Linked DNA regions of Homo sapiens. The protein of the gene in region 1 interacts with the protein of each later gene in a pairwise test. Each region holds a gene or a part of one and is shown in the gene's direction. Other genes may lie near its edges.

Region 1 (3,500 bases):
GTGCAGATTCCTTTGGCTGCCGCAATATTTTCCGCAAAACCTCAGATTCCAATTGTGTGGCTTCTTCTTCCATGGAGTTCATCCCCGTGCCACCGCCCAGGACCCCGAGGATTGTGAAGAAACCGGAGCCCCATCAGCCAGGGCCCGGAAGCACTGGCATCCCCCACAAGGAAGACCCCCTGATGCTGGACATGGTGCGCTCCTTCGAGTCTGTGGATCGCGACGACCACGTAGAAGTGCTGTCTCCCTCTCATCACTACAGGATTCTGAACTCCCCGGTCAGCTTGGCTCGCAGAAATTCCAGCGAGAGGACGCTGTCCCCGGGTCTGCCATCCGGAAGCATGTCGCCTCTCCATACTCCTTTGCATCCAACTCTGGTCTCTTTTGCTCACGAAGATAAGAACAGCCCCCCAAAAGAGGAGGGCCTGTGTTGCCCACCTCCGGTTCCCAGCAATGGCCCCATGCAGCCTCTGGGGAGCCCCAATTGTGTGAAAAGCCGAGGCCGGTTCCCTATGATGGGCATCGGACAGATGTTAAGGAAGCGCCATCAGAGTCTGCAGCCATCTGCAGATAGGCCCCTGGAGGCCAGCCTGCCCCCACTGCAGCCCCTAGCCCCTGTGAACCTTGCCTTTGACATGGCCGATGGGGTCAAGACCCAGTGCTAACTTGGGCCAGCGGGGTTTGGGGTATCTCTAGAAAACAGCAACTGAACAGAGCTCCACACATCTGTCAGGGTGTGAGCACTCCAAGGCCTCGCGTGGAGCATCCTTAGTCCCACCTGTAGCTGAATCCACAGACCCAAAGCCTGCACAACCCAACCTCGCTTAGGGACCCCCAGAGATGCTGGAATCGCTAGGAGGGTTGGCTCCAGGGGCAGCCAATTCCTATCATTCAGATCTTCCTTCCTCCCAAGTACTCACCAACCCCTTCCACTTCCCACTTCCCCCAGGCTTGGGGGGAAAACAGGGCATGAGCCTTCTGGGGCACTCAGATTATGGACTGTTACCAGATCTTTCTTCACGCTGTGCTACATGTGTGCCTCTCACAGCAGTTGGCCACAGTTACAGGGAGAGAACAATATCACAGTCATTCATCCAGGCCACGTTTCCTCTGCGGAGTGTAGCAGCCCTGCCTTTCATAGCAGGGATTACCTGAAGGCCAGCAGGAGCCGGGGGCAGGCCCAGGATCCTCAGAGGAAGATGGAGAGGAGCTTCGGACCAAGATCAAACCAAACAGTGGGGACCCCAACAGAAGAGAAAGACTGAAGGAGACACTCATTTCCCAAGCAAGATTTTGATAGATTTTTGTTGTTGTTGTTGTTGAAACATGCTAATGATTGAATTATCTTTTCCAAAGATTTTTTTTAAATGTGATGTCGGTAAATTGAAATAACATAATTTTTTAAAACTTGGATGGAGAGATGAGAAGCAATTCCACCAAACTCATGTTTTCACAGGAGGGTTCAGTGTGGAGAGCAAAAAAGCTGACTGTGGTGATTTGCTGAGTGCTGTGGCCCACAGGCAGGGCAAGTCTCGGTGGCCCTGTGTTCATCCTGTTGTTTAAGGCATAGCCCTGATCCTTCTGGAAGGCATAGAACACGGTTACAGCTGGTTCTGTAGAAAGAGGGAAAAGATGATTGTGACAATTCAGAGCATAACTCAGATGGCGAGAAGGCAGCATTATCTCTGTGCGATGCTGATTTCAAGCTGCCCACAGAACTGGTGCGGCTCAGAGCTCGGCGAGTTTGCTGGGAGCTGGGAGCAGGCTTGCCTGGCAGAGAACCTGTTCAGATACAGGCCAGTTTCTTCTTCGAGGAAAGCCAAGCTCCTCAAACAGGGTTCAGTCCACGTTGTGTTTTCACACCTTTCTCCAAGGATCGAACCAAAGATGTGTCTCCAGTATTGTGTCTGTGCCCCTGTGTGTGTTTTGTGGACAGCCGTGTTGTCTGACTGTATCCAGCTGGCACTTGACAGGGTGCAGTCATTGGTGAGAAGAATCAGAAAAAGAAGACCCATCAGCACAGGTTGGATAGGGGTTAGTGTAGGAGACCAGTTACAGAATGGCCTGGAGTCTTCAACTTTTGACCGGTGCAGGTGTGACCAGAGACCACCTCTGTGGCCACCTCAGATAGTCATCTCAGTCCAAGGATCCCAAAACACAAATCTAGAATTGCAAAGCCAGCCTTTATTTCCCTGGCAGGCAGCCTTGCCAGAAGGCAGAGAGGCAGTTCTGAATCATTCTCTCATTCACCAGTGGTGACATCCTTCAGTCCCTCACATCTCTGACAGAGCGGGACAGAATGGATATTTGGCTGACCTTGGTGAGACCTGGAGCTGCCTGTTTCTTCCCTAGGGGATCACCACGGCTCTAGGGCATTCTAGGATGAGGTCAGACCCCTTGGCCATTGGTGTTATTTTTTGTATAGCTTCAGACTGGGTTCCAGAACTTACCATTGAAAACAGAGCTTTTAGGCCAGGTGTGGTGGCTCACACCTGTAATCCCAGCACTTTGGGAGGCCGAGGCAGGTGGATCGCTTGAGCTCAGGAGTTCGAGAGCAGCCTGGGCAACATGGTGAAAGCCCGTCTCTACCGAAAAATACAAAAAAAAATAGCTGGGTGTGGTGGTACGTGCCTGTAGTCCCAGCTACTTCGGGGACTGAGGTGGGAGGATCACTTGAACCTAGGAGGTCGAGGCTGCAGTGAGCCAAGATCATGCTACTGCACTCCAGCTTAGGTGGCAAAGTGAGACCCTGTCTCCAAAAAAAGAAAATAGAGCTTTATAAGCAGAGAGAAGAAAATAATCATCTAAGACCATCTCTCCATTCGACATGAAGTGTACCTTTTCTAAAGACGGTTTCCAGCTGCAACGGCTCCACTTTGCAGGCTTGCAGGGTGTATACCTGCGCATTGGGAACTTGCTGGAACCCCTGATGCATTTTCCTTGAGAGCAGGGGTACTTCCGCCTTGCCGTTAGCTTGTGGAGAACGTGCTTCTTATTCCTGGCAGGCTTCAAGAACAGCTGCACATGTGCCGCTAACTGACCGCGTTGCCATTGGCGACCTGGACTCTGAACTCAGGTTTATTCTAAACCCAGTGAGAGGTGAGGGGGAGTGATGAAAGGGGATCAGCTGTATTTGTGTGTGTGTGTGTGTGTGAGCACCTGACAAATCTATGAAACCGAGTGAAAGGAGAAATGTTAGATTCTTTATTATTTTATTATATTTATATGGAAAGCTCGACTCTCCCTTTGGTAAGTCCGAAGCATGTTGTCTGTTCGACCGTGACTGTCTTCCTCAGTCTGTGCCTGTGATTCCAGTCACCCTGTAGTTACTGACAGAAATTGACTGGACTGTCATTGTGTGAAGTCTAGGAGGAAATGTCCATTTTAATTGTATGATTTGGTCATAAGTAAGGACTATATTTATGTCACCATTATTAGATATATGTACTTTTGTAATGACTGTGAAATACACTTTTCCCTCACTACGACTGCTTCTTTAT
Region 2 (3,500 bases), on another chromosome or scaffold:
AGGTTTTTTTCTTTGAGGGAGACAGTTGACTCTCATTTTATTTATTCGGAGAGATTACTGAGCTATGACTAGTCAAGCCTTTTTTGGCCTCTGCTATTGGTTCTGCTCATATCCCCTGGTAGTGTACCCATAAAAAAGTTGAGGTTTTTGGTTTTTGAAAGGGTTAATAATACTTAAAGGACTTTATTTGAGTCTTAAGTGGTTAGATTTACTGAATTTTAGAGTTGAAAGAGAACTTGGAGATCATCTAATCCAGTGTCTGCATTTTACAGATAAGAAAAACCCTGTCTGATAGAGACATGATAAAGTTCTAGTGTGTTTGTTCTAAAGGTTCTCCGTATTTTTATTTTTTAAAAGGTTATTTTTTTAAAGCTCTTTTATGAATTACATTTCTCTTTCACAACAAACTTGTGATAAGTTGAACGATATTTTCCCCTCCATAATAGGTGAAGAAACAGGCACACAAAAGTGAAGTAACTCACCTCTGCTAGATAATATCAAAGTGGATCCAGAACTAAGTTCTGAATTTTGACACAAACTCTGAACTGAGTTGTTTGATTTTCTGTTAGAAACCCTACATTTAGTAAAATTTGTGGACCAGGATTCTAGATATTGCTCAAATTTATTTATGATGTCTTTCATGATTAAGTGGAAGAATATCACAAACTTCATATCTCTGCATACTAATCGTGACTATCAGTGCTGTTCATTGTTTATTCTGCTTTGTGTAAACCTGTTTTAAAGAAATAAAAGTAGCTGCTTGGCCATATATTAATGATGATAACTGAGTTTTTGTTTCCTTATCTGTAATACAAAACTCTCATAGAGTTGTTGAGAGGAACAGAGATAATGGATGCTAAACAAGCCTTAGCTCCAAAAATTGGTAGCTTCTATGGTCTAAGTGAAAATTAATATACAGAAAGTAATATTAAGATAATGAAATGGATGAGTTTTATATATATGAGTAATTTAGAAAATGTTCTGCTTTTTAATTTTTATAATAGTAATAAGGGAGATTTGGACATTGAGCTTAGTTCTTTTCAAAAGCAAAGAATTACTTTGAATGAATAGTTAAGAGGAACTATTATATTATTTTGATAGTTAAGAGGAACTTTAATTTTGAATTCTTACACTATCTTAAATTAAGATTTAATTGTTAACCGTAACCTTTTTTTTTTTTTTTTTTGAGGCGGAATCTTGCTCTCTCGCCCAGGCTGGAGTTTAGTGGCACAATCTCTACTCACTGCAAGCTCTGCCACCTGGGTTCACGCCATTCTTCTGCCTCAGGTCCCGAGTAGCTGGGACTACAGGCACCTGCCACCACGCCTGGCTAATTTTCTTGTATTTTTTTAGTAGAGACGGGGTTTCACTGTGTTAGCCACGATGGTCTCGATCTCCTGACCTTGTGATCTGCCCACCTTGGCCTCCCAAAGTGCTGGGATTACAGGCGGGAGCCACCGCGCCTGGCCAACGGTAACTTTATATGATCTTCAACCTTCTTTAAAAATTTTTTTTGGCCACGTGTGGTGGCTCCCACTTGTAATCCCAGCACTTTGGGAGGCCCAGGTGGGCAGATCACCTGAGGCCAGGAGTTCAAGACCAGCCTGGCCAACATGGTGAAACCCTGTCTCTACTAAAAATACAAAAATTAGCCAGGCGCTATGGTGCGTGCCTGTAATCCCAGCTACTCAGGAGGCTGAGGCAGGAGAATCACTTGAACCTGGGAGATGGAGGTTGCAGTGAGCCAAGATGGCGCCACTGCACTCCAGTCTGGACGACAGGGTGAGACTCTGTCTCAAAAAAAGAAAAAAAAATTTTTTTTTATATCCTCTGTAGAGTTATGCAATTTCTCAACAGATTATTTTTGTGGCTCACTTATGTCTTAGACATTTTAAGATCTTTTCCCTCAGGACAGGACTTTCTTTAAATATCTTATTGATGTATTTACTTTTAAGGGAGAATGACTAACATGAAAAATTTTACATTTCTCCATCTAATTCGTATTTTGTTTGTTACACACTACAATGTAAGTTTTTTGACAAGGTTTTATATGTATGTTTTCATTTCATCTGTCATGTCAGGCCTAAACTCAGTGTACAGAATTCTCAATCTTAAACTTTATGAAAGCTCATACAGCTATTCAATCTATATACTTATTTTCAGATATAGTTACTTCGGTTAATTTTTTAACCAAGATATTTCAATCATAAACAATCATTTTATGTTTAGTGGTTTATCTTTTTCTTTCAATATTAAATATTCAGGTTGTATACTTCAGTATTGTGAAGTGTGTTTGAGTCATGGCCATGATATGAAGATCAGTGTACTATCAAAGAAACTTAAAAAGACAGCATAGGATGGGCTTTAGATCCAGTCTGTTCCTATCACTTGTGAGACTTTGGGCAAGTCATGTTACTTCTATGACACTTAATTTCTTTATCTGTAACGTTAAGGAATTGACTCTGAATGAATTCTCCCTAAAATTCTGAATTTGTATCTTTGTGACAACACCTACTAGTACTATTTAATGTTGAATGTTATATGTTTAAGATCCCCTTTGATGACAAAAGTAACAAGAATGAGAATTGGCATTATTAAAACAATAGATTAGAGTTTCAATTTGGGGTGACGAAAAAGTTCTAGAGATGGATAGAGGTTGCACAACGTGAATGCACTTCATGTCTCTGAACAGTACACTGAAAAAATGGTTAGAATGTTAAATTTTATGTTATATATATTTTGCCACAAAAAACCTGCAAAAACAGGCAGCCAAAGGGTCTTAGAGTTATTATAATTACAGCACATTCATATGTACCTTTAAATCATTTAAAAACATGCATTTTGAAAATTTACATTTTATGTAAATGTAAGTTTATTTAAGTATGTTTATCCTTTTTGTTGTCAGAAATATCTATGTTCCGAATGAATTGAATGCAGTTTGTTGCTTAACCTTTCCTGTACTTTTTCTTTTTCAGTAATTGGGGTGAGTATAAAGAGGAATTAGGAACCTGAATGTACTCCTTATTTAAAGATATGCAGTATCCTTTTTGCAAATGATATCCTTTTAAAAGTAAAATTTCTAAACTTTATCTTAATACCTGTCACATATTATAGTCTTGAATTGGAATTTTGGTTGAATTACAAGGAATTTAAGTATCAGTCTTCATCATAAAGAAATTTAAGATGAATAAATTGAAGAAAAGGCTAAAATAATTTAAGAAGGAAATTATATTTCTTTGTTTAAAAATAACAGGCAAAGGTTTATATGAAGCTTGTTTGTAATACATCATTATTTTCTAATCTGTGTTTTCCTCCCAAATTTTTATAGCCTAATTCAAAGGAATTAGGCTTATCAAAGCTGTTTTTATAATTTTGTATTATGAAATGCCTACTATAATTAGAATAAAATTGATTGACTTGAAAGGGAACCCTTTTTTCCCCATTAATTCAAAACCCTTTGACGAGTAAAAATGGCCATATATTGTTATGTATAGCCGTGT
Region 3 (2,831 bases), on another chromosome or scaffold:
GAAATGCAAGTAAGACATGTGTAATACTTTTCCTGTACCCAAGGTGAACATGACCCAAATTTGCTGATCTCTAATTTCATGAACTATAAATGGGTTTCATTTTATAAAATAATTCATTTTCTAAGACATTTTTGAGGAGATAATACTAGATGGTTAAGTTCCCACAAAAAGTAATTTAATTTCATAGTAGAGAACAATTTTTATATTAATAGTTTTACAGAATCTCACATTTGAATGAATATGAATTTCGTTTCTTTGGGGAATGCCAGGGGAGTGTTAAAATGCTTTGGAGTTGTGCTTCTTACAGGCAGCACAGCATTCTCAGAAGCAGTCTACTGAGCTCTTCCAGTGCATGTACTTCAAAGACAAAGACCCTGCCACCGAGGAGCGTTGCATATCTGACGGAGTTATTTATTCAATTAGAACAAATGGTGTGCTTCTATTTATACCAAGGTATGTTACATCTAATGCAATGGTGCATAAGAAATCATAGTTAAAAGTGTAGAACACAAACTGTACATTAGATATAATTTATTAAAATATTTAAGCAACTAGTTATCATATGTACATAATGTAATGTATAATTCAGTATATAAATGTGAAGATTGGAGGCCAGGGGTGGCTCACGCCTATAATCCCAGCACTTTGGGAGGCCAAGGTGGGCGGATCACCTGAGGTCAGGAGTTCGAGACCAGCCTGGCCAACATGGTGAAACCCCGTCTCTACTAAAAGTACAAAAATTAGCCGGGCATGGTGACGCATGCCTGAAATCCCAGCTACCTGGGAGGCTGAGGCAGGAGAATCACTTGAACCCGGGAAGCAGAGGTTGCAGTGAGCCAAGATCGTGCCACTGCACTCCAGCCTGGGCGACAGAGCAAGACTCTGTCTCAAAAAAAAAAAAAAAAAGTGAAGACTGGAGTGTGTGTGTGTGTGTGTGTGTGTGTGTGTATATATATACACACACACTTCTATATCCATTTTAGGGTCTTTCTTATCCAGCAAAATACTTTGTTTCCATCTGCTAAGGTGAAATAAATACGTGGAGGTAAACCACAGGAAAAGTGATTTGTTTTTAATCTAGGAGAAAAACTAGTATTCTAGATAAGCATACAAGATCTGTGTACTAAGAATACATTGTCTCTGGATTTATATTCTGGTCATAATATAGGTTTGGGATTAAAGGTGCTGCTTATCTAAAAAATAAAGATGGTTTAGTCATCTCATGTGGCCCAGATAGCTGTTCTGAATGGAAACCAGGATCCCTTCAACGATTTCAAAACAAAATTACCTCTACTACAACAGATGGGGAATCTGTTACGTTCCATTTGTTTGACCATGTAACCGTAAGTCTGTGTTTCTATTAAGTATTATTAATATTTTAAATGTAAGGAATAAATAATGTGATTTAGTAATATGTATTTTCTTCTCTATGCTAGGTAAGAATATCCATACAGGCCTCACGTTGCCATTCTGATACAATCAGACTTGAAATAATTAGTAACAAACCATACAAGATACCAAATACAGAACTTATTCATCAGAGTTCCCCCTTGCTGAAGAGTGAGTTAGTGAAAGAAGTAACTAAATCTGTGGAAGAAGCTCAGCTTGCCCAAGAAGTCAAAGTAAACATCATTCAGGAGGAATATCAAGAATATCGCCAAACAAAGGGAAGGAGCCTATACACACTTCTAGAGGAGATACGGGACCTAGCTCTCCTGGATGTTTCAAACAATTATGGAATATGAGAGGCTCTTACTTCACTAAGAGCTGTCATATGTGAATGTTTTACAGTCTTTTCAAACTTAACATTTAATGTGTGTCACTCAGTGCTCTAGTCGATCAGGACTGGGTAGCTATTTCGCATATATGTAAAATGTTCTCAGCCGGGCACGGTGGCTCACGCCTGTAACCCCAGCACTTTGGGAGGCTGAGGCGGGCGGATCACGAGGTCAGGAGATTGAGACCATCCTGGCTAACACGGTGAAACCCAGTCTCTACTAAAAATACAAAAATTAGCCCGGCGTGGTGGCATGCGCCTGTAGTCCCAGCTACTTGGGAGGCTGAAGCAGGAGAATTGCCTGAACCCAGGAAGAGGAGGTTGCAGTGAGCCGAGATCGCACCACTGCATTCCAGCCTGGGCAACAGAGCGAGACTCCATCTCAAAAAAAAAAAAAAAAAAAAAAAAAGTTCTCTCATTCATTAAAGTTGCATTAAATAAAGTATAATTAGGTCACTATGGAAACAGAGTTTTCAGTAATGAGTGGACAGTAAGTGGTGGCTCTGCAGATGGCCCCTTTCTAATAAGTTTAATAAACCCGAAATTACTGGTTATCTCGTCTCCAATCAGTTCTTTCAAATGTTTTATTTTTCCAGTAATTACGTTTGGGTCATAGGCCCCTCTGACATTTGTCAGGTAATTTTCAGTCACTTTCAGATAATAAGACTTAGTCCTGAGTCCACTTCTCCACTTAAAAATTCCTATTTCATATTTGACTCAACCCTTACCTGCTGTCTCCAGTACTAGCTGGGATTAGGACACAGGGCGGGTGGTAGGATGCACAGGTAAAGTTCTGTCACAGGCCTTCCTTCCCACTCTCCCATTTTGATGAGGTGCATTGGCCTTCCCCTTGTTGGAAACTTGTTACTTTGCCAGCAAACACCCCACTAGAAAAATTAACTCTAGGCCGAGCGCAGTGGCTCACGCCTATAATCCCAGCACTTTGGGAGTCCGAGGCGGGTGGATCACAAGGTCAGGAGTTCAAGACCAGCCTGGCCAAGATGATTAAACCCCATCTCTACTAAAAATACAAAAATTGGCCAGGGACAGTAGC
Region 4 (3,500 bases), on another chromosome or scaffold:
TGACAAACCTGACAAAAATAAGCAATGGGGAAAGGATTCCTTATTTAATAAATGGTGCTGGGAAAACTGGCTAGCCATATGCAGAAAACTGAAACTGGATCCCTTCCTTACACTTCATACAAAAATTAACTCAAGATGGATTAAAGACTTAAACATAAGACCTAAAACCATAAAAACCCTAGAAGAAAACTTAGGCAATACCATTCAGGACATAGGCATGGGCAAAGGCTTCATGACTAAAACACCAAAAGCAATGGCAACAAAAGCCAAAATTGATTAATGGGATCTAATTAAACTAAAGAGCTTCTGCACAGCAAAAGAAACTATCATCAGAGTAAACAGGCAACCTACAGAATGGGAGAAAATTTTTGCAATCTGTCAATCTAACTAAGGGCTTATACCCAGAATCTACAAGGAACAGATACAAATTTACAAGAAAAAAACAACCCCATCAAAAAGTGGGTGAAGGATATGAACAGACACTTCTCAAAAAGAAGACATTTATGCAGCCAAAAAACATATGAAAAAAAGCTCATAATCACTCGTCATTAGAGAAATGCAAATCAAAACCACAATGAGATACCATCTCTCACCAGTTAGAATGGCGATCATTAAAAAGTCAGGAAACAACAGATACTGGAGAGGATGTGAAGAAATAGGAACGCTTTCATATTGTTGGTGGGAGTAAATTAGTTCAATCATTGTGGAAGACAGTGTGGCAATTCCTCAAGGATCTAGAACTACAAATACCATTTGATACAGCAATCCCATTACTGGGTATATACCCAAAGGGTTACAAATCATTCTACTATAAAGATGCATTCACACATATGTTTATTACAGCACTGTTCACAATAGTAAAGACTTGGAACCAACCAAAATGCCCATCAGTGATAGACTGGATAAAGAAAATATGACACATATACACCATGGAATACTATGCAGCCATAAAAAAGGATAAGTTCATGTCCTTTGCAGAGACATGGATGAAGCTGGAAACCATCATTCTCAGCAAACTAACACAGGAACAGAAAACCAAACACTGCATGTTCTCACTCATAAGTGGGAGTTGAACAGTGAAAACACATGGACACAGGGAGGGGAACATCATATACCAGGGCCTGTCAGGGGCTGGGGGACTAGGAGAGGGATAGCATTAGGAGAAATACCTAATGTAGATGATGGGTTGATGGGTGCAGCAAACCACTATGGCATGTGTATACCTATGTAACAAACCTGCACATTCTGCACATGTATCTCAGAACTTAAAGTATAATTAAAAAAAAAAAAAAACGGCAGTGATCCTGAGCTCTGGGGAGACTGCAATGAGCAGAGCCCTCCTGCCAACTTGTATTGGACTTGTAGCAGGATTGCAAAATTGACTTCTGTTTCTTTAAGCCACTGAGATTTAGCATTATTTCTTACTGTAGTATCAGCTAATAGCTACCTTTTTCTCTATTCAATAGCACTTGTGCCCTCCACCTACAAATTTCAACTCTGATTCTACAGCAGTGATTCTGGGGCCTAGCTGCACATCCAAATAGATCTTGGAGCTTTAAAAACATCCTGATGCCCAGACTTCACGCCAGACCAATCACATCAGAATTTACTTGATTGGAAGCTGGCATTTGGTATGTTTTTTAAAACCCCAGGCAATTTTGTTGTGCTGCTGCCAGGGCTGAGGACCACTGTCATAATAATGGGGACCTGAGAAAGCTCTGTCAGTTGCCAGAAGTCGTTAAGCTTCCTATTATGAGGACTTGCCATAGGACACAAATAAGCCCAAAGATTACAGTACATTTTCTGCTTGTAACAGCTATTCCTACTTGTACGGACTTTGAAGTGATTCAGTTTCCTCTACGGATGAGAGACTGGCTCAAGAATATCCTCATGCAGCTTTATGAAGCCAACTCTGAACACGCTGGTTATCTAAATGAGAAGCAGAGAAATAAAGTAAGTTATCCACAGGTTAGCTTCTTCAATGTCTGTCTACAGGGCATGAGGAAGAAAGACGTGGTGGGGGGGCTACCTACCTCTGCATACTGGCAAAAGCCCACTATGCTTCCCCATGCCCGGTTAGCCCATGTGGCTTAACAGAATAATAGATGTCACCATTCACGCCACAAGGTTTCAGACACCACCAAACCGCCCCATTCTTCCCAATGGTCAGTGGCCTGAATTAGGGCTCTTCAATTCCTACCTAGAGCAAGCTCTGGTTGAGCAAAGTTAATATAAATTTAGCATTGATCTAGTCAGTCCAAACATCTTATTTAAATCTAAGCATTTGTTTTGTTCTCATAGGCCAGACATAGATGTATGATATAAAGTAAATCCATTACTCAAAATATCAGTAATATATTAAGATTAAAAAGCACAGAACATTGATTCCAAAAGCTTCCAGAGAAAATTCATTCACCAGATAGTTATTGAGTGTATCCTGGGTGCCAGAAATTGACCTAAATACTGGAGATACAGCAACGAAAAGAAAATCTCTGCCTTCATGAGTTTACATTCTGGGTGAAGAGACAGACTCTAAACAAATAAGTATATATGTGTGTGTGTATGTAATGTTTGTATATGCATATATTTGTACATACATATATATGCATATATGCAATTATATATAGTAAAATGAGCATTTATGTAAATATAACCAAATCAGCAAATATATGTATAAGTATGTCAGTTGGGATTAAACATGGTGTGAAGACAAATAAAACAAGAAGGAGGGTGTGCATTAACTGTGTCAGATGCTGTTTATAGGTTATGAGTTGAAGACTGAGAATTGGCCAGGGATTTAGCATGTCAAAGTCATAGCTGACCTTGATAGGAACTGTTCCTGGGGTGGGAGCATGTTTCAGGAGGGAAGCTCCAGTGGACAGAGTTCAACAGAGACTAGGAGGAATGGATGCAGCAAGTATAGACAATCCTTTCAAGGAGTTTTGCTATGAAGAGATAAAGAGAAATGGGGTGGCAGCTGGAGTGGAAAGTGAGTACAAGAGTCCCACCTAGCAGTGGGAGATGGTAGAGGATGTTTGCACGCTTCTGGAAATAACCCAGTCAAGAAGGAAATGTTAGTGGGGAGCAGAGAATGCGCACAACTGCCAGAGGGCGTTCTTCGATACATGTCCCACCCAGAGGAGAGGGATTGGACTTAGGTTAGGAGCACAGGAAGGTCGCAGGGAGCAAAGTTGTGGTTCTGGGAGCAGGTGGAGGTCCTGTTTGCTTCCAATTACTCAGTGAAATAAGAGGCAACATCACAAGCTGAGAGTTTCACAGGCACTGCTCAAGAATAATTTCTAGCCCCCGTCTTGAATACCTTGTCACAGAGAGCCTTGAGGGTATTAGCTATGAAACAGGGAAATTTCAATGGGGCTGGCCAAGCAATAACACACCAGGGTGAAAGCAAGACTGAGTGGGCACTGGATGGATGACCTAGAAGACTAAGAGTGGACTCTGTCATCGGGGGAAGGAGCAGCACTTTTCACTAACTAATCACC
Region 5 (3,500 bases), on another chromosome or scaffold:
CCAGGTGATTCTAATGTGTAGCCAGGCTTGAGAACTAGAGACTAAGGACAGTGTTGAGACTAGAGAATGGCAAGGAGCAGAGTTGAGGGTCCTGTATGGCATGCAAGGATTTTGGACTCTATCCTGAAGGCAGAGCTAAATCTTTGAAGGATTTTTAAGCAGGAGAGTGAACTGATCTGATTTGCAATTGTTAAAAAGTTCACTGTGGCTGTAGTCCAGAGCAGTAGTTTTCAAATTGAGGTAGATAAGATGATCCAGGGGAACTGGAAGAAAATTTAGAACTTTTTATTGTTTTTATCTAAAAGATAAGATAAAACATTTAATTTAGGAATTGTCTCTGGCATCTTCTTGGGTCTATAGGTCAAACAGTTAATGTGTTAACTGTAGAACTTTGGGTGTCCTGAAGGAAGAGACTGAATTCTGCAGTGAGCAGAGACATATTTATACATTTGTTCTCCATGTATTGCAACATGTTGTTAACAGTTTATATTAACCAGTTCTCATTGAACTAGCCTTTACAAAATGGACATGCAGAGAAACCAGTGATCAAAGAAAATACTAATAATACAAGCACAAGCAAACAAGTTGTCAGAGCTGACACTTGTCCAACTCCTGTGATGAATTCTTGGTGAGCTATTCAAATAAGTCAGCTCTTACTAAATTGGAAAGTATCAGGAAATTTATAAGAAACATGAACTTTCGTGCTCTGTCATTAATAGGAATCTTGCTTTAAGATTCCTTTTAATCGTATGTAGAACCCAGCTGCACGGTGGCTCACACCCATAATCCCACTGTTTTGGGAGCCTGAGGTGCAGGAGGCCAGGAGCTCAAGACAAACCTGGGCAACATAGCGAGACCCCATCTCTACCAAAAATAAAAAATTAGCCGTGTGGTGTCACGTGCCTGTAGTCCCACTTACTTGGGAGGCTGAGGCAGAGGATTGCTTGAACCCAGGAGTTCAAGGCTGCATTGAGCCATGATTGCACCACTGTACTCCAGCCTGGGGGACAGAGGGAGACTCTGTGTCTCAAAAAAAAAAAGAGGAGGACCGGGCATAGTGGGTCACACCTGTAATCCCAGCACTTTGGGAGGTCAGGGTGGGTGGATCACAAGGTCAAGAGATCGAGACCATCCTGGCCAACACAGTGAAACCCCATCTCTACTAAAAATACAAGAATTCGCCGGGCGTGGTGGCGTGTGCCTCTGGGTAATTTCAGCTACTCGGGAGGCTGAGGCAGGAGAATCCTCTGAGCCCAGGAGGCGGAGTTTGCAGTGAGCCGAGATCTCGCCACTGCACTCAAGCCTGGGTGACAGAGCAAGACTCTGTCTCCAAAAAAAAAAAAGTATGTAAAACCTTGAGATATTAAATAATAAAATATGAGGCTGTCACCAGTATGAAGACATTTGAAAACCAAAAATTTGGAACATAAAAAGAACCTCTACATTTTTTTTGCAGTGATGTTTAAAGATAAAGGATATTCCATCAGATGCTTTACAAAATTTTGCTAACTTCAATTATTAAAATTTATATTTTGAGGGTTTTTTGCTTTTAAGAGACAGGGTCTCACTCTGTTGCCCAGGCTGGAGTACAGTGGCACAATGATAGCTCACTGCAGCATTGAACTCCTGGGCTCAAGCGATCTTCCCACCTTGGCCTTCCAAAGCTCTGGGACTACACATGTGAACCACCATGCCTGGCCAGTTTTTAAGTTTATTGTTCTTATAAAAGACAAAATGGGGCCGGGTGCAGTGGCTCATGCATGTAATCCCAGCACTTTGGGAGGCCGAAGTGGACGGATCACTTGAGGTCAGGAGTTTGAAACCAGCCTGGCCAACATGGCAAAACCCTGTCTCTACTAAAAACACAGAAATTAGCCAGGTATGGTGGGCACACCTGTAGTCCCAGCTACTCGGGAGGCTGAGGCAGGAGAATCGCTTGAACCTGGGAGGCGGAGATTGCAGTGAGCTGAGGTTGCGCCGCTGTACTCCAGCCTGGGAGACAGAGCGAGACTGTTTCAGGGGAAAAAAAGAAAAAAGACAAAAAAACACATACCCTTGGCAGATTCTTCCTGCCCCACCCCCAAAAGGCCCACTTAAACAAAAAATGGACTGATGTACTACATGGAAAATAATTTTGTCAGGAAATCAAAATACTGTTGGAAGATGTATAGAAAACATTGCTGAATATGTGAACAAACAATATTAGAACAAATTTTGCAGTGTGGGAAGTTTGGTATACGGTTATAAAAGTACAGAAGCTTCTAGCATGTCTCAGTATCGCTAGATACTCTTTTTTTTCTTTTCTTTCTTTCTTTCTTTTTTTTTTTTTGAGACAGTTTTGTTCTGTCACCCAGGCTGGAGTGCAGTGGCACCATCATGGTTCACTGCAGCATTGACCTCCCAGTCTCAAGTGATCATCCTACCTCAGCCTCTCAAGTAGCCAGGACCACAGGCATGCACCACCATACCTATTTTTTTTATTTTTTATTTTTAGGAGAGATGAGGTCTCACTATGTTTCCCAGGCTGGCCTTGAACTCCTGGCTCAAGCAATCCACCTGCCAAAAGACCTTCCAAAGTGCTGGGATTACAGGCATGAGCCACCGTGCCAACTGTGCCAGGCCTAGATTACCTTTTAATAGTTACATCCAAGAATAAGGACCACTTCTTTTGTGAGCTACTGGAAGAAAGTTGTACTGGAGAAGACATATTTTTAATAGTAAATGATTGCCTTCATAAGAACATTACTATATGGAATAATAGACTGAATGTAAATTAATGGAACAGCTGCTTTGACTGAACAAAAGAATGAAATTCATTCATTACTTCTCTATGGGCAGGCTGTTGAGTCCACTTATTTGTTAATTATCTTGTGGTAGAGTTGTTGATGAGTTTTGCATTTTTCTTTTTTAAAAAAATGCCAACTTTTTGTTATGGTAAGTGGCTACAGTTTGAGTAATCCTAATATGAAATCCAAAAGGCTTCCAAATCCAACACTTTTTTTTTTTTTTTTTTTTTTTGAGACAGGTTCTCACTCTGTATGTAGCCCAGGCTGGAGCGCAGTGGCATGATCATGGCTCATTGCAGCCTTGACCTCCTGGGCTCGGGTGATCCTCCCACCTCAGCCTCCTGAGTAGCTGGGACTACAGGCATGCACCACCATGCCCAGCTAATTTTGCAACCAGTAGGAATAATGCAAATAGTACAAAATCTGAAAAATACCTAAATCTGAAACACTTCTGGTCCCAAGCATTTCAGATAAGGAATACTCAACCTGAACCTAGCAAATATCATTTGAAAAAATAATATCTTAATCTGTCTCTTCAAGTAAAAGTATTATTTAAATAGTGAGTGAAAAAGGAACTACTTCTTTTCTTAGAAAGAAATGTGCAGGCCGGGCGCGGTGGCTCACGCCTGTAATCCCAGCACTTTGGGAGGCCGAGGCGGGCGGATCACGAGGTCAGGAGATCGAGACCATCCTGGCTAACACGGTGAAACCCCG
Region 6 (4,202 bases), on another chromosome or scaffold:
ATGGGGTGTGGGCAAGGGTCTGTCTACACCAGGCTGTGATTACCTGCTCACATACATGTGTCTATCTGAGTAGGGGTATGTTATCTATTTTTCTACACCACAGGGTGAGGAACAGGTATATGTGTGCATGTGTATGCATCCGTGTGTGTGTGTATGTGTGTGTGCATGAGTGTGTGTGTGTGTGTCCAAAGCCACCTCTTCAACCTGTGCCATTTGTATCTGTGTCTGGCCCAATGAGAGTGTTGAAAGGTGAGCCACAAGATAAAACAGCAACTTCCTACCTCCCTTATCAAGACAGCTGTCTGACCTACCTCCCCTTGGCCACTCTTGGGATTACTGGGGTTGGCTTCAGTATTTTCAGATTTTTCAGAAGGGGAGGAGAATGCTTGAGTCTCATCCAGGAACTTAGGCAGTTCTCAGCACTGCCTGCTCCTCCTCCCTCAAATAACCAAGTCTGAAGACCAGGAGAGAAAGCCGCTGGTGGACTGGTCACCTGTCTGGCAGTGGGAGGAGGAGAGTGAGAGGTTTCTAGGTTAGGAATCCAGACTTAGACCCTCCCCTCCACCCCCAGATGGGTGGTGCACAGGCTCATCTCGCGGCCCCTCCCCACTCCACCCTAACATGGATACGCCCCCAACAACCAAGGAAAGATCTCCCATCGGCTGACTCCACAGATACACACATGTCCCCACAGACACACACACGCCCATGCAGAGGCACAGACATCCAGGCACATCTTTCCCTTTCTCTGTCTTTCCCTTGGTTTGAATTTCGTTTAGCCACATATGTTGTGTGTGCGTGAGGGTGGGTGGGGGAGGGGCAGACAGGGATGAGGGATGGCATGGTGCCAACATCTACCTATGGGGCTCGGGCCAGGGACGCCCCTTACAGCCATCCTGGGAGGGGGTCTCAGCTGTCCCTTTGTGGCCAAGGGGACCCTCCTGGGGAGTGGGGGCAAGCACAGAGGTCCTTTCTCCCCAACCCGGGGTCTGGTCCCTGACCCACCTTGGGGGCCTGCAGGGGAGGAAATGGACAGAGCGGGACCCTGAGGGAGCATAGAATTGGCCACCACGAGCCCCCAGTGTCCAGCCTTGCCACCCCATTGTTCCCGTGAGGGGGTCTCTATATACAGGGGGCAACTCCTCCCACCTTCCTCTCAATCCCTGCTTTCCCTGCGTTGGGCGGGGAGGGGAGGGCGGCAGAAATATTTATTTATTTCCTTTATTTATTTAATTTTTTTTTTTTTTTTTGGAGTAGAGAGTGACAGATGGCGGCGGGTCCCGGGGGAGCCGGCTCTCCCCCAGTGCAGACGCATGCCAATCACCGTCTCTCATGTGATAGCTGCTGCCCGTGACGTGCCAAGCCCATATGGCCTGGCATAGAGGCTGGTACCCCGCCTGGTAGAGATGCCACACTCGCTCCGCGGTTCGCATGGCGCTCTGAAGACGCCGGCGCCCGCCGCCTTGAGGAGCCGCTGCCCCCGCTCCCTGAAGATGGGGGAACAATGAAATAAGCGAGAAGATCCCTCTTCTCCCCCCTCTCTCTCTTGCCCCCTCCCCCCCTCCCCTCCCCTCTCCCCTTGACTCCTCTCCGAGGTAAGTTGTCCGAAAGGGAGCGAGATCTGACCCGCCGGTTGGGAGGAGGGGCGGCAGCTTCGGCCGACAGGAGGGTCCTCAAATACCTCCTTCCTGGGATGATGCCCCCCTCATTGGGTGGGCATCGGAGGGGCCCCAGGTTCTCTCTCCCTTAGGGGCTGCAGCCCAGGGGGCTGCAGAGGAGGTGTCTCTGCCTGCGATGGGCTCGGTGGGGGGGGAAGGCAGGATCACGGAGGGGGATATGCGAAGAGGCCGAGACGGAGGACCCCTCCATGGTTGTCCCAAAAAGCCTGCCACCTTTCCCCACCACCGAAAAAAGGGAAGCAAACAAACAAATTTGGATTTTTCCCCCATCAATCCCAAAATACAACGAGATCTGAAGAGCCTTGTGGGAGGGAGTCAGCTTGAAGGGGGAAGGGGGTCCCTGACCGCAGAGGGGACGGACTGGGCTCGCTTCTCTCAGTCTCCTCCCCACGCCCCGCTGCTTCAGTCCTCGCCGCCCAGAGCCGGCTCCGGGAGCTGGGGACGCATCGGCTAGAGGAGACGATCCTCCCGCCTCTGGAATTGGGGGTGCGGGGGTGGGGGCCGAGCAAGGGGCGGCGCGCAGCCAAGTTGCAAATTGGATTAGGGAGCGTGGGGGTGAGAGCCACGGGAGGGGTGAGGGAGCTGGGCCGGGGGGCCCGGGCCGCGAGAGCGCGGAGCGGGGCAGCTGTCCCCACCGGCGGCCGACCAGCCTCTCTCCACCGCCAGGAGAGAACGGGCTTTCAGGGCGAGCGCGCCGCCTCCCCTGGCAAAGATATCTGGTCCCTAAAACCCCCACCCGGTCCCTGCCCTGACCCTGAGAAGAAGCAGGCGCGGGGAGCAGCCCCCCATTCAAGCGAGGGGCGGAGCCGGGGCCCAGCGCCGGGGAGAGGGCCTGGGCCGAGATCCCAGGCCGGCAGCCGGGTAGGGCTGGGCCGGCTCTGGGCGGGGCAGGCGGCGGAGGTGGGCATCCAGGGTAGCCTAGGCAGGAGCCCGCACGAGACTCGGGGGTGGAGGAGGGTTGTGGGGGGGCGTCGGTACCCCAGCGCGCCCCTCACTTTGTGCTGTCTGTCTCCCCTTCCCGCCCGCGGGGCGCCCTCAGGCACCATGCTGACCCGCCTGTTCAGCGAGCCCGGCCTTCTCTCGGACGTGCCCAAGTTCGCCAGCTGGGGCGACGGCGAAGACGACGAGCCGAGGAGCGACAAGGGCGACGCGCCGCCACCGCCACCGCCTGCGCCCGGGCCAGGGGCTCCGGGGCCAGCCCGGGCGGCCAAGCCAGTCCCTCTCCGTGGAGAAGAGGGGACGGAGGCCACGTTGGCCGAGGTCAAGGAGGAAGGCGAGCTGGGGGGAGAGGAGGAGGAGGAAGAGGAGGAGGAAGAAGGACTGGACGAGGCGGAGGGCGAGCGGCCCAAGAAGCGCGGGCCCAAGAAGCGCAAGATGACCAAGGCGCGCTTGGAGCGCTCCAAGCTTCGGCGGCAGAAGGCGAACGCGCGGGAGCGCAACCGCATGCACGACCTGAACGCAGCCCTGGACAACCTGCGCAAGGTGGTGCCCTGCTACTCCAAGACGCAGAAGCTGTCCAAGATCGAGACGCTGCGCCTAGCCAAGAACTATATCTGGGCGCTCTCGGAGATCCTGCGCTCCGGCAAGCGGCCAGACCTAGTGTCCTACGTGCAGACTCTGTGCAAGGGTCTGTCGCAGCCCACCACCAATCTGGTGGCCGGCTGTCTGCAGCTCAACTCTCGCAACTTCCTCACGGAGCAAGGCGCCGACGGTGCCGGCCGCTTCCACGGCTCGGGCGGCCCGTTCGCCATGCACCCCTACCCGTACCCGTGCTCGCGCCTGGCGGGCGCACAGTGCCAGGCGGCCGGCGGCCTGGGCGGCGGCGCGGCGCACGCCCTGCGGACCCACGGCTACTGCGCCGCCTACGAGACGCTGTATGCGGCGGCAGGCGGTGGCGGCGCGAGCCCGGACTACAACAGCTCCGAGTACGAGGGCCCGCTCAGCCCCCCGCTCTGTCTCAATGGCAACTTCTCACTCAAGCAGGACTCCTCGCCCGACCACGAGAAAAGCTACCACTACTCTATGCACTACTCGGCGCTGCCCGGTTCGCGGCCCACGGGCCACGGGCTAGTCTTCGGCTCGTCGGCTGTGCGCGGGGGCGTCCACTCGGAGAATCTCTTGTCTTACGATATGCACCTTCACCACGACCGGGGCCCCATGTACGAGGAGCTCAATGCGTTTTTTCATAACTGAGACTTCGCGCCGGCTCCCTTCTTTTTCTTTTGCCTTTGCCCGCCCCCCTGTCCCCAGCCCCCAGAGCGCAGGGACACCCCCATCCTACCCCGGCGCCGGGCGCGGGGAGCGGGCCACCGGTCCTGCCGCTCTCCTGGGGCAGCGCAGTCCTGTTACCTGTGGGTGGCCTGTCCCAGGGGCCTCGCTTCCCCCAGGGGACTCGCCTTCTCTCTCCCCAAGGGGTTCCCTCCTCCTCTCTCCCAAGGAGTGCTTCTCCAGGGACCTCTCTCCGGGGGCTCCCTGGAGGCACCCCTCCCCCATTCCCAATATCTTCGCTGAGGTTTCCTCCTC
Region 7 (3,500 bases), on another chromosome or scaffold:
GCGCTGTGGCTGACGCCTGTAATCCCAGCACTTTGGGAGGCCAAGGCGGGCAGATCACTTGAGGTCAGGAGTTCAAGACCAGCCTGGCCAACATGGTGAAAACTCGTCTCTACTAAAAATACAAAAATTAGCCGGGTGTGGTGGCACAGGCCTATAGTCTCGGCTACTCAGGAGGCTGAGGCAGGAGAATTGCTTGAACCTGGGAGACGGAGGTTGCAGTGAGCCAAGGTCACACCACTGCACTCTAGCCTGCGCAACAGGGTGAGACTGCATCTCGGGAAAAAAAAAAAAAAAGAATGAAATAAAATTAAAAATAAATTCAAAATAGACCCAGATCTTGCACCCTCCCCATTTTTGGTCAAAATTCACTTACCGATATTGATCAGACTCTAATATACTTCACTTGCGTAATTTGGAGGAAAGTTCTGGTTTTCTTCTAGAACTGGGATATCTTTAAAAATAGGAGCCATTCACGCCTGTAATCCCAGCACTTTGAGAGGCCGAGGCAGGTGGATCACAAGGTCAGGAGCTCAAGACCATCCTGGCCAGCATGGTGAAACCCCGTCTCTACTAAAAATACAAAAAATTAGCTGGGTGTGGTGACATGGGCTTGTCCCAGCTACTCAGGAGGCTGAGGCAGGAGAATTGCTTGAACCTGGGAGGCGGAGGTTGTAGTGAGCCTAGATTGTGCCACTGCACTCCAGCCTGGGTGACAGAGTGGGACTATGTCTCAAAAAAAAAAAAAAAAAGGAGCCATTAAAGAAAACCTAGGCTGGGTGCAGTGGCTCACTCCTGTAATCCCAGCACTTTGGGAGGCTGAGGTGGGCAGATTATGAGGTCAGGAGATTGAGACCATCCTGGCTAACACGGTGAAACCCCGTCTGTACTAAAAATACAAAAAATTAGCCAGGCATGGTGGCATGTGCCTATAGTCTCAGCTACTTGGGAGGCTGAGGCAGGAGAATCACTTGAACCCAGGAGGCGGAGGTTGCAATGAGCCGAGATCGCGCCACTGCAGTCCCGCCTGGGTGACAGAGCGAGATTCCATCTCGAAACAAAATAAAACAAAACAAAAGAAAAGAAAATCTAGCAAAATGCAGTTTCCTCATCTCATAGTCTAATTCCCAGTTGAGCCGCAGATTGCCAGATGACTCTTGTTGACATGAGGATCAGACTGGAGGGTCATCCCATTTCCTGACCCTCTTCTCCACTGAGACCCAAAGAGGAGCAGTGTTGAGAAGAGAGGGATGCTGTGTGAGCCTCTGGACCTGCAACCAGAGCTTTGGGCTTAAGCTGTGAATCTGAGGCTGATCATTTACCTCTGGGGCTGATTCCCTTTGTGTGGTGGTGGGCTGGGTGAGATGGGCATGGGGCTAGATTTTGAGAAACTAGGCACAGTCCAATCCGGTAGAGGCCAATTCAGTCCTTCATTGCCTGGTCCCCTTTTTTGTGTACATCAAAAATGGGAGACTGTGTGCTTTTAATCTCATGCTTGTCTTCCTTCTAATAATTAGCTTCATCAAATTCTTTCCTCTGAGAAAAGAGCACATGTGTATTCAAAAATCCTTAGCATTCTCTTCTTAGGGCACGTTAATTTGTTATGCTTATGGAATTGAGTGCTAAATCTCAGTGACTCAATTAAGACATCTGTCTCCTGTGAACACAAATAAGGACGGTTCTTCCAGTTCTCCTTTTCCTAAAGGAAAAGAATGAAAGGCACTCAAAAGAGTTCCAGTGAACATAAACTTCTAAGGCCAAAGGCTCGAAGATAAATCTTGAGGGAAGGAGGTTTGAGAGGGAGTTGGGGGCTTTGGTGCTTCTCCCACTGGTGTTTAGTTCACTTGGCTCCCTTCTTGAGTCAGGATGTCTAATAAAGATGCAGTCAGCCAAGGATTGGTGTCACAATTGATGTAGCATGTGGCCTGCTACGGGCTGGGCTCAGCCTCTCTGGATACAAAGGAGAGTCAGGCCTACCTCTCCAGGTGAGTGGGATTCAGTCTTTGGCTTCACTTAGAATTGTGGATACTAGGAGGAGTCTAACCTGAGGATGTGCTGAAAAACGTGTTAAGAATTGTTTTTGCTTGAATCATGTTATGCTGTCGTTTCTAATGATCGTCCTTCTTTCCATTTCCCCTCCTCTTTCTTTTTTCCCTGTTTGATAACATATCTTGAAAATATTGCTAAAGGTTCTCTCTCCCCCACGCCCTCCTCTCCCTCAAAAGGACCGCTTTGCATGGCAGTCCCCCACCATCCACAATACCTATAAGGATTCCCTCTACCTGAGCTCACCAAAGCCTTATGTCCCACTCGGCACCCCCAGACAGCAGAACCCCTCACAACCCCAGCCTATCTCTGTCCTCCTGGCAGCTGGATCGGCTCCCAAAGGTGTGGTGTGCCCTGGTTCCTTGCTTCCGGACTCCACGTTCCCCAGTGCTTCATCCCAACCCCAGCAGCGCTATGCAGCCACCAGGACAGTTTATCATAAGAATGTGAGCTCTAACCCATGTCATGAGGCAGTTGGGATTAAAAAGGTCAGCAGCTTATATGTACCTTGTTTATCCAATAACATTTGCCTGGCGGCGTCAGAAAACTCCTCTCGTGTTGCACGTGACCCTGCCGAAGGCACTCCCTTGGAGGCTGCGGGCACCCGAGCACCGGCTCCCGGCCTTGTCTCCCGCACAGCCGGCACAGGAAAACCACCCCCTGCTCCTCCTCCTGACCCTCCCAAGCTATTCTTTGACATCCGTAAAGATGCCGTTAACCGTGGCGAGAGTCCTTCCCTGGGGACTCAGGCTTCGTTCCCAGATGTGAGACCACCTGTGCTAGGCCCCCGGGTTACCTCTGATCCCGAAAACCGGAAGAGCAAAGAATCTTACCTTTTGCAGCCGAGTTATCCAGCCAAGGCAAGAAATTAGGAATGTTTGTGTGTCTTCTCTACTGTCTCTTTCAAAACTGATGCGAGCAGCTCATTGTTCACTGGGCTGCCCTACCCTCCCTTTCCTCATTAATGTTGTTGTGGCTTGAGTCCCGAATTCTTCTGTCTGAACCTTTCAGCACAGTACTCTCTTTGTCTGTCTCTCTTTTCTGTAAATGTGTAAGTATGCCGGAGCGTGGAATCCAGAGACTAATAACATGGTGAGAAACTCATTGTTCATGTTTTATTACAAGGTGCCAAAGAAATTGTATTTACTCCCAAGCTTTTAGGCTCTATGGTGGTGTTGTGGGGTTAAACACAGCCTGCCTGCCTGTTCTGTTCTTTCTCTCTCATAAAGTGTTAAAAGGATTCAAAAATAGATGGATGAAAAGCGGAGTTGGATGGGGTTCCCTCTGTGTCATGGAGTGTCAGAAGGCCAGCTGGCCAGCTCCGACTGTCTCATGTACTCTGAGGAAAGGGCACTGATTAAATATTTCTCAGAGTACCTCACTGCATGCCCACTCTCAACCGTTTAAATATGGAATTCTTTCCTCGTATCATACCCCTTTCCATAACGACCCCCTTA

The links.
Region 2: the proteins of HUNK (region 1) and SNRNP48 interact in a two-hybrid assay, tested with the Homo sapiens proteins (one large-scale study listed by BioGRID and IntAct).
Region 3: the proteins of HUNK (region 1) and DIS3L interact in a two-hybrid assay, tested with the Homo sapiens proteins (one large-scale study listed by BioGRID and IntAct).
Region 4: the proteins of HUNK (region 1) and SPARCL1 interact in a two-hybrid assay, tested with the Homo sapiens proteins (one large-scale study listed by BioGRID and IntAct).
Region 5: the proteins of HUNK (region 1) and PTPRA interact in a two-hybrid assay, tested with the Homo sapiens proteins (one large-scale study listed by BioGRID and IntAct).
Region 6: the proteins of HUNK (region 1) and NEUROD2 interact in a two-hybrid assay, tested with the Homo sapiens proteins (one large-scale study listed by BioGRID and IntAct).
Region 7: the proteins of HUNK (region 1) and SORBS1 interact in a two-hybrid assay, tested with the Homo sapiens proteins (one large-scale study listed by BioGRID and IntAct).

What each region holds. Positions count from the first base shown.
Region 1 is NC_000021.9:31,998,520-32,002,019, forward strand, and holds part of HUNK (hormonally up-regulated neu tumor-associated kinase), read left to right. Parts: intron 1-6; coding exon 7-665; 3' UTR 666-3,500.
Region 2 is NC_000006.12:7,596,698-7,600,197, forward strand, and holds part of SNRNP48 (U11/U12 small nuclear ribonucleoprotein 48 kDa protein), read left to right. Parts: intron 1-2,975; coding exon of another isoform or gene 2,976-3,004; exon of another isoform or gene 3,005-3,162; intron 3,163-3,500. UniProt on the Homo sapiens protein: Likely involved in U12-type 5' splice site recognition.
Region 3 is NC_000015.10:66,331,568-66,334,398, forward strand, and holds the end of DIS3L (DIS3-like exonuclease 1), read left to right. Parts: exon of another isoform or gene 1-301; intron 302-307; coding exon 308-453; intron 454-1,168; coding exon 1,169-1,343; intron 1,344-1,436; coding exon 1,437-1,745; 3' UTR 1,746-2,331; downstream 2,332-2,831. UniProt on the Homo sapiens protein: Catalytic component of the RNA exosome complex which has 3'->5' exoribonuclease activity and participates in a multitude of cellular RNA processing and degradation events.
Region 4 is NC_000004.12:87,480,877-87,484,376, reverse strand, and holds part of SPARCL1 (SPARC-like protein 1 isoform 1 precursor), read left to right. Parts: intron 1-1,816; coding exon 1,817-1,953; intron 1,954-3,500.
Region 5 is NC_000020.11:2,879,981-2,883,480, forward strand, and holds part of PTPRA (receptor-type tyrosine-protein phosphatase alpha isoform 1 precursor), read left to right. Parts: intron 1-3,500. UniProt on the Homo sapiens protein: Tyrosine protein phosphatase which is involved in integrin-mediated focal adhesion formation.
Region 6 is NC_000017.11:39,605,121-39,609,322, reverse strand, and holds the start of NEUROD2 (neurogenic differentiation factor 2), read left to right. Parts: upstream 1-1,402; 5' UTR 1,403-1,595; intron 1,596-2,718; 5' UTR 2,719-2,723; coding exon 2,724-3,872; 3' UTR 3,873-4,202. UniProt on the Homo sapiens protein: Transcriptional regulator implicated in neuronal determination. Mediates calcium-dependent transcription activation by binding to E box-containing promoter.
Region 7 is NC_000010.11:95,414,872-95,418,371, reverse strand, and holds part of SORBS1 (sorbin and SH3 domain-containing protein 1), read left to right. Parts: intron 1-2,186; coding exon of another isoform or gene 2,187-2,903; intron 2,904-3,500. UniProt on the Homo sapiens protein: Plays a role in tyrosine phosphorylation of CBL by linking CBL to the insulin receptor. Required for insulin-stimulated glucose transport. Involved in formation of actin stress fibers and focal adhesions.